Homo sapiens: one gene and its partner. The protein of the gene in region 1 purifies or fractionates together with the protein of each later gene. This does not show direct contact. Each region holds a gene or a part of one and is shown on either strand. Other genes may lie near its edges. The genes, in order: FAM78A and ADD1.

Region 1 (3,908 bases):
CCTCCCCACCACACGTTGCACCAACCACATTAGCATCCAGTCCCGTGAGTGCTCATGTCTTTCCAAGTTCAGAAGAACCCACTGGCTTCCTTACCCCTTCCAGGGAAGAAACTAGGCTTAGCCCAAAACCCCGAGGAAAACTTTTGTTTCTACAACTGTCCCGATGCCTTCAAAGCCCGAGGAGGTTTCTGGGCTTAAGCGTTCTTAGAAAAGGTCCTCACTGCATAACTAAGAATCATGTTTCCCTGCTTAGAACAGAAAGGCAGCACCCCCTCCCCCGAACTGGATTACTAGCTGCTCTTGAGACACAAAGGGGTTGGCACAGAAATCAGGCTGGTGGAGAGGGCCGGTGAGAGCCTCTAGATGTGCCCCCCATGTACCTCTTTGGGACAGTCACTGTCACACGCTGGACTTAAGGGTTACTGTGATCCTCATGTTTCCTTTAGAACTTTGGAGTCATTAAGTAGAGAAGCCACCAGACTTGGTGTCCCGCCATCCTCCACCCCTCTCATTTACAGGTGGCCCATGAGATTCTTAAATCTGTGATAAGTTCCAGCTCCTGGGGAAATTCTCCTCTTTTCCCCACTTGCAAAACGGGGACGTGAAGCTGCACAGGGTAGACACTGAGAGAGGCTCTGGGAGTGTCAGCGGCCAGTCACGGGGCCACAGGGTAGACACTGAGAGAGGTTCTGGGAGTGTCAGCGGCCAGTCACGGGGCCGCATGGGTGGGCTGCCCGCCGGGGCCTGCCTAGCTCTCTCCAAAGGGTCCTTACGCTCAGAAACAGCTATTTTCACCATCCCTGTCTTAGGGTGAACCTTCAGATTAAGTCACTCTCCCAACTCTGCCTAAATGCAGCTCTTTTCACCCTGGGGACGGCCTTCTCTGGGGTCAGGAAGCAGGCCAGGAAAGGAGCCCCAGGGTCCCAGGGTCCTCACCGGGACCCCCAATACCCTAGGCACACTCTGGAGACCGGGCTTTGGGGCTGCAGAGGAGAGGCTCCTCTTTGCTGTTCCTGTTAGGGCCTCGCCAGAGGGACACTGGACTTGTCTGCATAAAGCGGTCTTCTGCCTTGGAGACAGAAAGCGATACACTGTGAAGAAATCGGGCTTCTAAAACTAACTGTGCTCTCAAACACAGTGCCGTTTGGAACGGGGAAGCACTCCCCCAGCTCCTGGCATACACTGGTAAAAGCCAGAAAGATAATTGAGGCCCAATCGCAAAGCCCTGAACACACCGGTCTGGGAGTTGCAGAGTGCCTGAATGTCTGCCATGGGCCCGCACAGGGCCAGAGGCCTGGAGGGCAGCCCTGCAGCCTCTCTGGTGACCCCTGATGGCACAGACACTCCTCAGGCGGACGGCACACTTGCTCTGCCAGGAAACACTGGGAGTAATGTCTCTCTGCTTTCTCGGCATCTTGCAGGGAAGGACACAGGAACCCGGGGGGAACAGTGGCAGGGTAGATTGCAGGACCGTGACTCCAATCTGGATCCACAGGCAAACTTTTCAGGGAGCCACCGGGCCAATGAGGCCACCTGCATACCTGCCTAAAGCTTCCCTCTGGCCTCCGTCCTGTCTTCATGGTATCTCCACCTTCCCCCTATCCGCGGCCCCCCACCAGGCCTCCAAGCTCGGCCATCCCTAGCAGTTCCCAGAGCTGGCTCTCGGCCGTACTCACATGCCCTGCTCGCCGTACTGGTTGTAGAACTCCATGTGGCTGCACGCCTGGATCCAGCCAACTACCCAAGTCTCCTTCTTGGGGATGGGCGGCATGACCACCTGGGCCGAGGCCCGGAAGTGGGGTGTCCGGTAGCGGAGCACCACGCTGGAGGACTCATCGATGCTAGTGGGGACGGGGTCGATGGAGGCTTTCACATCAATCACCGTGATCCCTTCCCGGAAGACTCTGGCTTTGCCTCCGATGCTCTGAATACAGCCCATGGCATACAGGAGCGCTCTGATCTCCAGGGAAGGCCAGCAGTCACAGAAAAAACCAGGCATTGAAAGGACAGAGGCTGCAGGACCCAGTACAGACGGCGCTGCTCTCCAATCTCAACTCTCAAGACCGATATCCATAGGATAGAAAACTCACTGAGTAGACTGGGGTTGCATATATCACTACCGCGGCCTGTTTATAAATAAGGATTCTGCTGCATTTCATGAGCCCTGGGCTCTCTCTTCTTCTCCTCGCAGTGGACAAAAATCACCGATATTCTTTGGGTTAAAAAAAGTTTGTAGTTTAATGAATAATTATGCGGTTCTGACATCCAGCCCTTCTGTGCCTCACACGCGGGGACGGCAGCTCGCAGACTCTCCCTGAAGTCTTCGGAGGAAGCAGGCGAGCGCCGGCAGACTCATAAATAAGGAAGGCTCTGTCCCCGCGCGGCCGCGCCACCCTCGCGGCAGAAGCCTGACTTCCTGCCCTCCGGCCTTCCGCACGCGCTCCCTCCGGGCCCCGCACCCGCACCCGCCCGGCGCGGTCGAATCAATTGCAGAGCAGTTTGTGTTCACCCGGCCGAGGTCCCGGCGCCCTCGGGGCGAGCGCCGACCCGCGGCTTCCAGGAGGCGAGCTCAGGGCTCCGGCCGCTCGCCGGTGACGGGGGAGCGCGGCGCGGGTCCCCGTCGGCGCCCACTCGCGGGCGCGGGCCGGACGTCCCCACGCAGGGGCGCCGCGTCCCTTCGCCGCTGTCGCTGCCGGCCGCCGTGCAGGGTCCCGGGGCTGCGCTCCGGCCGCCGCCGCCTGCTTCGCCGCGGCCGCCGAGGACCTGGTGGGAGGTGGAAGGGACAGCGCGTCAAGGCCAGCCTCAAAGTTAAGCCGAACTTTGCTGCGGGGGGCGCGCGGGGGCGGCGACGCGTGTGCGCTGGGCGCGGGCTGCGGAGCTGACGGCGCAGCTCTGGGCGGTCTCCCCGGAGGCGGTGGCCCCCGCCCCCCGCGCCCGCCCCGTCAGTGGCGGCCGCACGACCGCGCGCACCAGCGAATAATAGCCGCCCGTGACATCTCCGCTGATACCGTCCCGGACGGGCGGGGTGGGGGGCGAGCGGCTGCCGCTGCAGGGGGCGGCGAGCACTTGCCCTGCTCTGTCCCCACCGCCGCGCCGCCAGCGCCAGGTGCCCCTTCCCCACCCCGGTCCCTCCGGCTCCCTGGGCGCAGGGCCACCCACCAGTGCCGTCGGATCCGGCGGGCACCCCTTTCCCGGCTGGGGTCCCTCGGCCCTCGGAGGGCATAGTGCCCCCGCTCCGCCGCGTCAAGCGCCTCTGTCGCCCCTCTCCAGCCGCGAGCAGCCCCGGGTCCCCACGCGTCGGGCGCGCTCGCCGCTGCCGGGGAACTTTGGCGCGCACGCCCCCACTCGGGCGGCGCCGCCGACTCACCTGCCCCGGGGGCCACTCCGCTGGCCCGGGCAGCCGCTCTCCGGACGCCCCTGACCCGGCCGCGGGCACGTTCTTGGGGCGCCCCCACCCCCTTCCCCGGGCACTGTCCCTTGGCTCTACTGGAGTCTGGGGCCGGCGTGGGCGCCCCCGGCCCCCACCCTCCTCCCGGCTTGGGGCTTCGGGGGGGCGGCCGGGGGCGGAGGGCTGAGGCTCGGGGCTCTCTCGCCCCCACCCCGCGCGCCTCCTTTATTTTATGATCATTGTGAGCGCGCTGTCGCCGCTCAGCCCCGCCGCCGCGCCGCTGCCGCCTGGCGCGCCCCGCGCTGCCTCGCTCTGCTGCAGCATCGGAAAGGCAACCGGGTCAAACTTTGCAGAAACTCGGCCCCTGCGCCGGCCCGGCCCCCGCGTCCGCTCGCCGCCGCCGCCGGCCGAGCGCAGCCGGCGCACGCAGGGACCGCCGCCCGCTCGCCGGCCCCGCGGGGATGCAGGTCCGCAGGCGGCGGCGGCGGCGGCGGGCGGGCGCCGCCTCCTCCTCCCCGCC
Region 2 (3,808 bases), on another chromosome or scaffold:
AATTTTTTGCATTTTTAGTAGAGACGGAGTTTCACTGTATTAGCCAGGACGGTCTCAATCTCCTGACCTCATGACCCACCTGCCTCAGCCTCCCAAAGTGCTGGGATTATAGATATGAGCCACCACGCCCGGCCTCCTTTTATTTTTTTGAGATGGAGTCTTGCTCTGTCACCCAGGCTGAAGTGCTGTGGCTCGACCTTGGCTCACTGCAACCTCTGCCTCCCGGGTTCAAGTGCTTCTTCTACCTCAGCCTCCCGAGTAGCTGGGATTACAGGCACCCTCCACCACACCTGGCTAATTTTTGTAGAGAAGGGGTTTCACCATGTTGGCCAGGCTGGTCTTGAACTCCTGACTTCAGGTGATCCACCTGCCTTGGCCTCCCAAAGTGCTGGGATGACAGGCATCAGCCATCGTGACCGGCCTACATTTTTTTAAAAAGGTAATAACAATCATGAATGGAGTTGTTTTGGGTTTTATTTTCATAATTGTCCTCAGAAAGATAAGGTAAATGTGTGTACTGGCAGTTTTCCCATTTCTGAGCATGCTTTGTTGAGGAATAATAAAAGAGAATGACTCTGCCATAAAGACTATCTGCAGAAAAACACAGTTCTTATTAATTCAAGTTTCCTTTTGCTTAAAGAGCCAGAACTCAGTAATCTCCACAACTTCAGAATAAACCACCCAGGACTCATCAACATCATTTTATCCTGAAACCATATGGATTTTTCTTTATTCTTCCCCTTTAAATGCTGTTAAACCAAAACCAGAAGTAATACTCAGACCTCAGAACTACTATCTGGCTTGTAGTTAAAAACATGGATTTGGGTCAGGCGTGGTAGTTTACACCCATAATCCTAGCACTTTGGGAGGCTGAGGTGGGAGGACTGCTTCAGCCCAGGAGTTCAACACCAGCCTAGGCAACATGATGACATCCTGTCTCTCCAAAAAAAAAAAGAAAGAGAAAATATATATGGATTTGTTCCTTCTTTGAGAAACTGAAATTATATCTTGATTTTTTTTGGGGGGGGGACAATTTAGCATTTTTTTTCTAACTGTAGAAGTTCAAATGAAATATTATCTCTCTTTTTGAAATTTTTTTATTTTTTGTGGAGAGGAATCTCGCTATGTTGCCCAGGCTGGTCTTAAGCTCCTGGTCTCCCACCTCAGCCTCCTGAAGTGCTGGGATCACAGGAGTGAGCCACTGTGCTCGGCTGCAACATATATTATAGTGTGGAAATTGGCAACTATTCTCTACTCAGTTATTAGCAAACAACATATATGCCAACCCCGATGCTAAATTAAAACATGGACTATGATTAGTGATTGCTGTCTAGTTTATTTCTTATAAACTATATGGCCTTCTAATATTAAAACAATCTGTACACATTAAGGACACTGAGTAAACATTCATCATGCTTTTTGTAATGAATGTTTTACTTATTAATCATTCATCCTTATCTTCCTTCCCTACCAAATCAGAGTTTCTACCTGATTTTGACTTCCCCCTCTCCGCCTTCTAGGATGTGCTTTCAGCACAGTCTTTGGTGGCTGCTGTGCATTCTGACCCCCCTCTCTCCTCCCTCACACTGACTGTAAGTAGAAGAGCAGCAAAATGTCGCCGTATTTACCAGGAGGCAGGGGCTGTGTGACTGGGCCAACCTCAGCCCTCCTTACCTTGCACAGCCATGCTGGATGACCTGGCTCCTGACGCACACCTGGGCCATGGCTGCCCCACTCTCAAGCTTTCTCCATCTATGAGTCCCTGCAGCTTCACTACCCTGGCTGGCCACCCAACTCTAACTGCTTCTTCAGCCTTCTTCATGAGCTTTTGCTCCTCTTCCTACCTCCTTGACCAATCGGCACCCACCTCTGCCTGCAAGCTCTCATCATGCCTATGACTGCACAGATCACAGGGGCAGGGCTCATTTGGGAATCGTTTGTCCATCTCTCTTATTAGGTCATAAACTCCTGAGGGCAAGAACTGTGTCCTGTTCATGACTCAACAGTAGACAGTCAATTAATGCAATCAACCTCACTGATTATATGAACTCAAAAAGTTACGCTAGACTCTGCCTTCTCTGTTCGTCCCTGTGTCACTGATTGAGTCTACTCCACTGACTGACTATCGCGCCCAGGCAGAAAACCCTCAGTTCCTCCTTTCTAGCGGACAATATTCATCCCAAGTGCAAAGAATTTCAGTAAGAACATTTAACATAGCCTGAATCAGACCTATGAATACTTTTTATTCCAAACCTTCAGGAAAGTTAAACTTCCTGCCTCCTGAAGCCACCCTGCTTCCTGAAGCCACCCATCTCATCTGTGATCTGGTCCAAGGGCCACGCCTGTCTTAGGCTGGAACGTGCCCACTTGTCCAGTACTGGCTGGCAGCATACAAGGATACTGGCCCCTCTGAGGCCTTCTTTCCCCACACTGACATGTCCTCACATCTACACCACTTGAGGTCATGTGGCGTTAGGACGGACCATCGTGACCCCCATCTAAGAGGTCTGATGTGCAGCATGGAAGGGATCTGTTCCAGAGCCCTGTGTCTGATGATGTGGCTGCGGGACTGAGACCCCAAGGGCAGTGTTCTAATACAGCTCTAAGAACTGAGTATTTAATGATCCTGGTAAAGTCAAGATGAACCTGAAAGGTGCACCGTACGTTGCATGTTCCCATCTCCCCACTCCCATTGTCTGCAGCTGTGCTGTGGCCTCTTCATCCTGTCATCCTGTTTTTTTCCAGGCTTTCAAACGCAGGCTAAGATCCTACCTATTCTTTGAGGTCATTTCCAAGGGCTACCTTCCACATAAAATTTTCTCTCCAGTCCTTGCAAAAGAATGAAATTCTTCACGGCAACCCTGTAACACAGAACACATCCTGTGTGTCTGCCCTCCTATCACAGTGTGGGCTCACTTTCCCTGTGTGCTGCAGGCCCCATAAGCCCGCCTTCTGGACCATGCCGGGCTCTGTGTCCCTGCAATAAGCAGCTGAGGGGCTCCCACGCTGTGGACAGGGAGTGGATACCCATGGAACACAGTCATCAGGCCCCAGACAGCCAGGATTTGCTGTTAAGACAAAAGCCTAAATACCTGACTGACCGATTTCAAAAGTGCCACCTCTCTCGCTTGCTTGTGGGATGGTGGGGACTGAGCTGACACAGCTGGTCATCCAGCTGCCTACGCATTCTCTGTGCTCTTGTCCCCACTGAGTCCAAACACAAGGTTATCTTTAAAAAATAAAACAATACCAGGAATCCTTCACCTCTACATTTTATTGTAATTTACCTCAGAAGTTAAACAACCCTAGTGCTTCTTCATGACTTTGAAGGTGAAGGTATTCAGATACTGCATAAAAGACAGCAATCGCACTTGCTGTAAGAACACCAACACTGATGCTTTTAGAACAAAAGGTTTATCATCAAGTGGTGGCACCATTCTTACCAGATTATCGAGCATCCGCATGAGGGCTTCAAATTCCTGCTCACCAATCTGCCACTTGGGAGGCGATCCAGTGCCTTCCCCTACCGGAGACCCTGGGGAACGGGACTTGGCTTTGTACTTCTCAGGATTCAGCAGGACTAAGTTGTCTGGTCCTCCTGCACTGGCCAGAGTTCGAACCTTTTCCAAAACACACACAGCATGGCTTGAGTTCCTTACTGAGATCAAGAGGGTCAGATGACTTGAATAAAAATGTAGGTTTCAAAAGAAACCAAATCTCTAGAGTGTAAGAATAAAAAATGTAGAATGGATAGTGACAGACTGATCACAAAGTTACTTTCAGAAGTATTTCTTTAGCATGACAAAAA

The links.
Region 2: the proteins of FAM78A (region 1) and ADD1 purify together in Homo sapiens (affinity purification with mass spectrometry, with the first as the bait; one large-scale study listed by BioGRID). This does not show direct contact.

The regions. Positions count from the first base shown.
Region 1 is NC_000009.12:131,274,181-131,278,088, forward strand, and holds the start of FAM78A (protein FAM78A), read right to left. Parts: upstream 2,331-3,908; 5' UTR 2,000-2,330; coding exon 1,677-1,999; intron 1-1,676.
Region 2 is NC_000004.12:2,899,071-2,902,878, reverse strand, and holds part of ADD1 (alpha-adducin), read right to left. Parts: intron 3,621-3,808; coding exon 3,444-3,620; intron 1-3,443. UniProt on the Homo sapiens protein: Membrane-cytoskeleton-associated protein that promotes the assembly of the spectrin-actin network. Binds to calmodulin.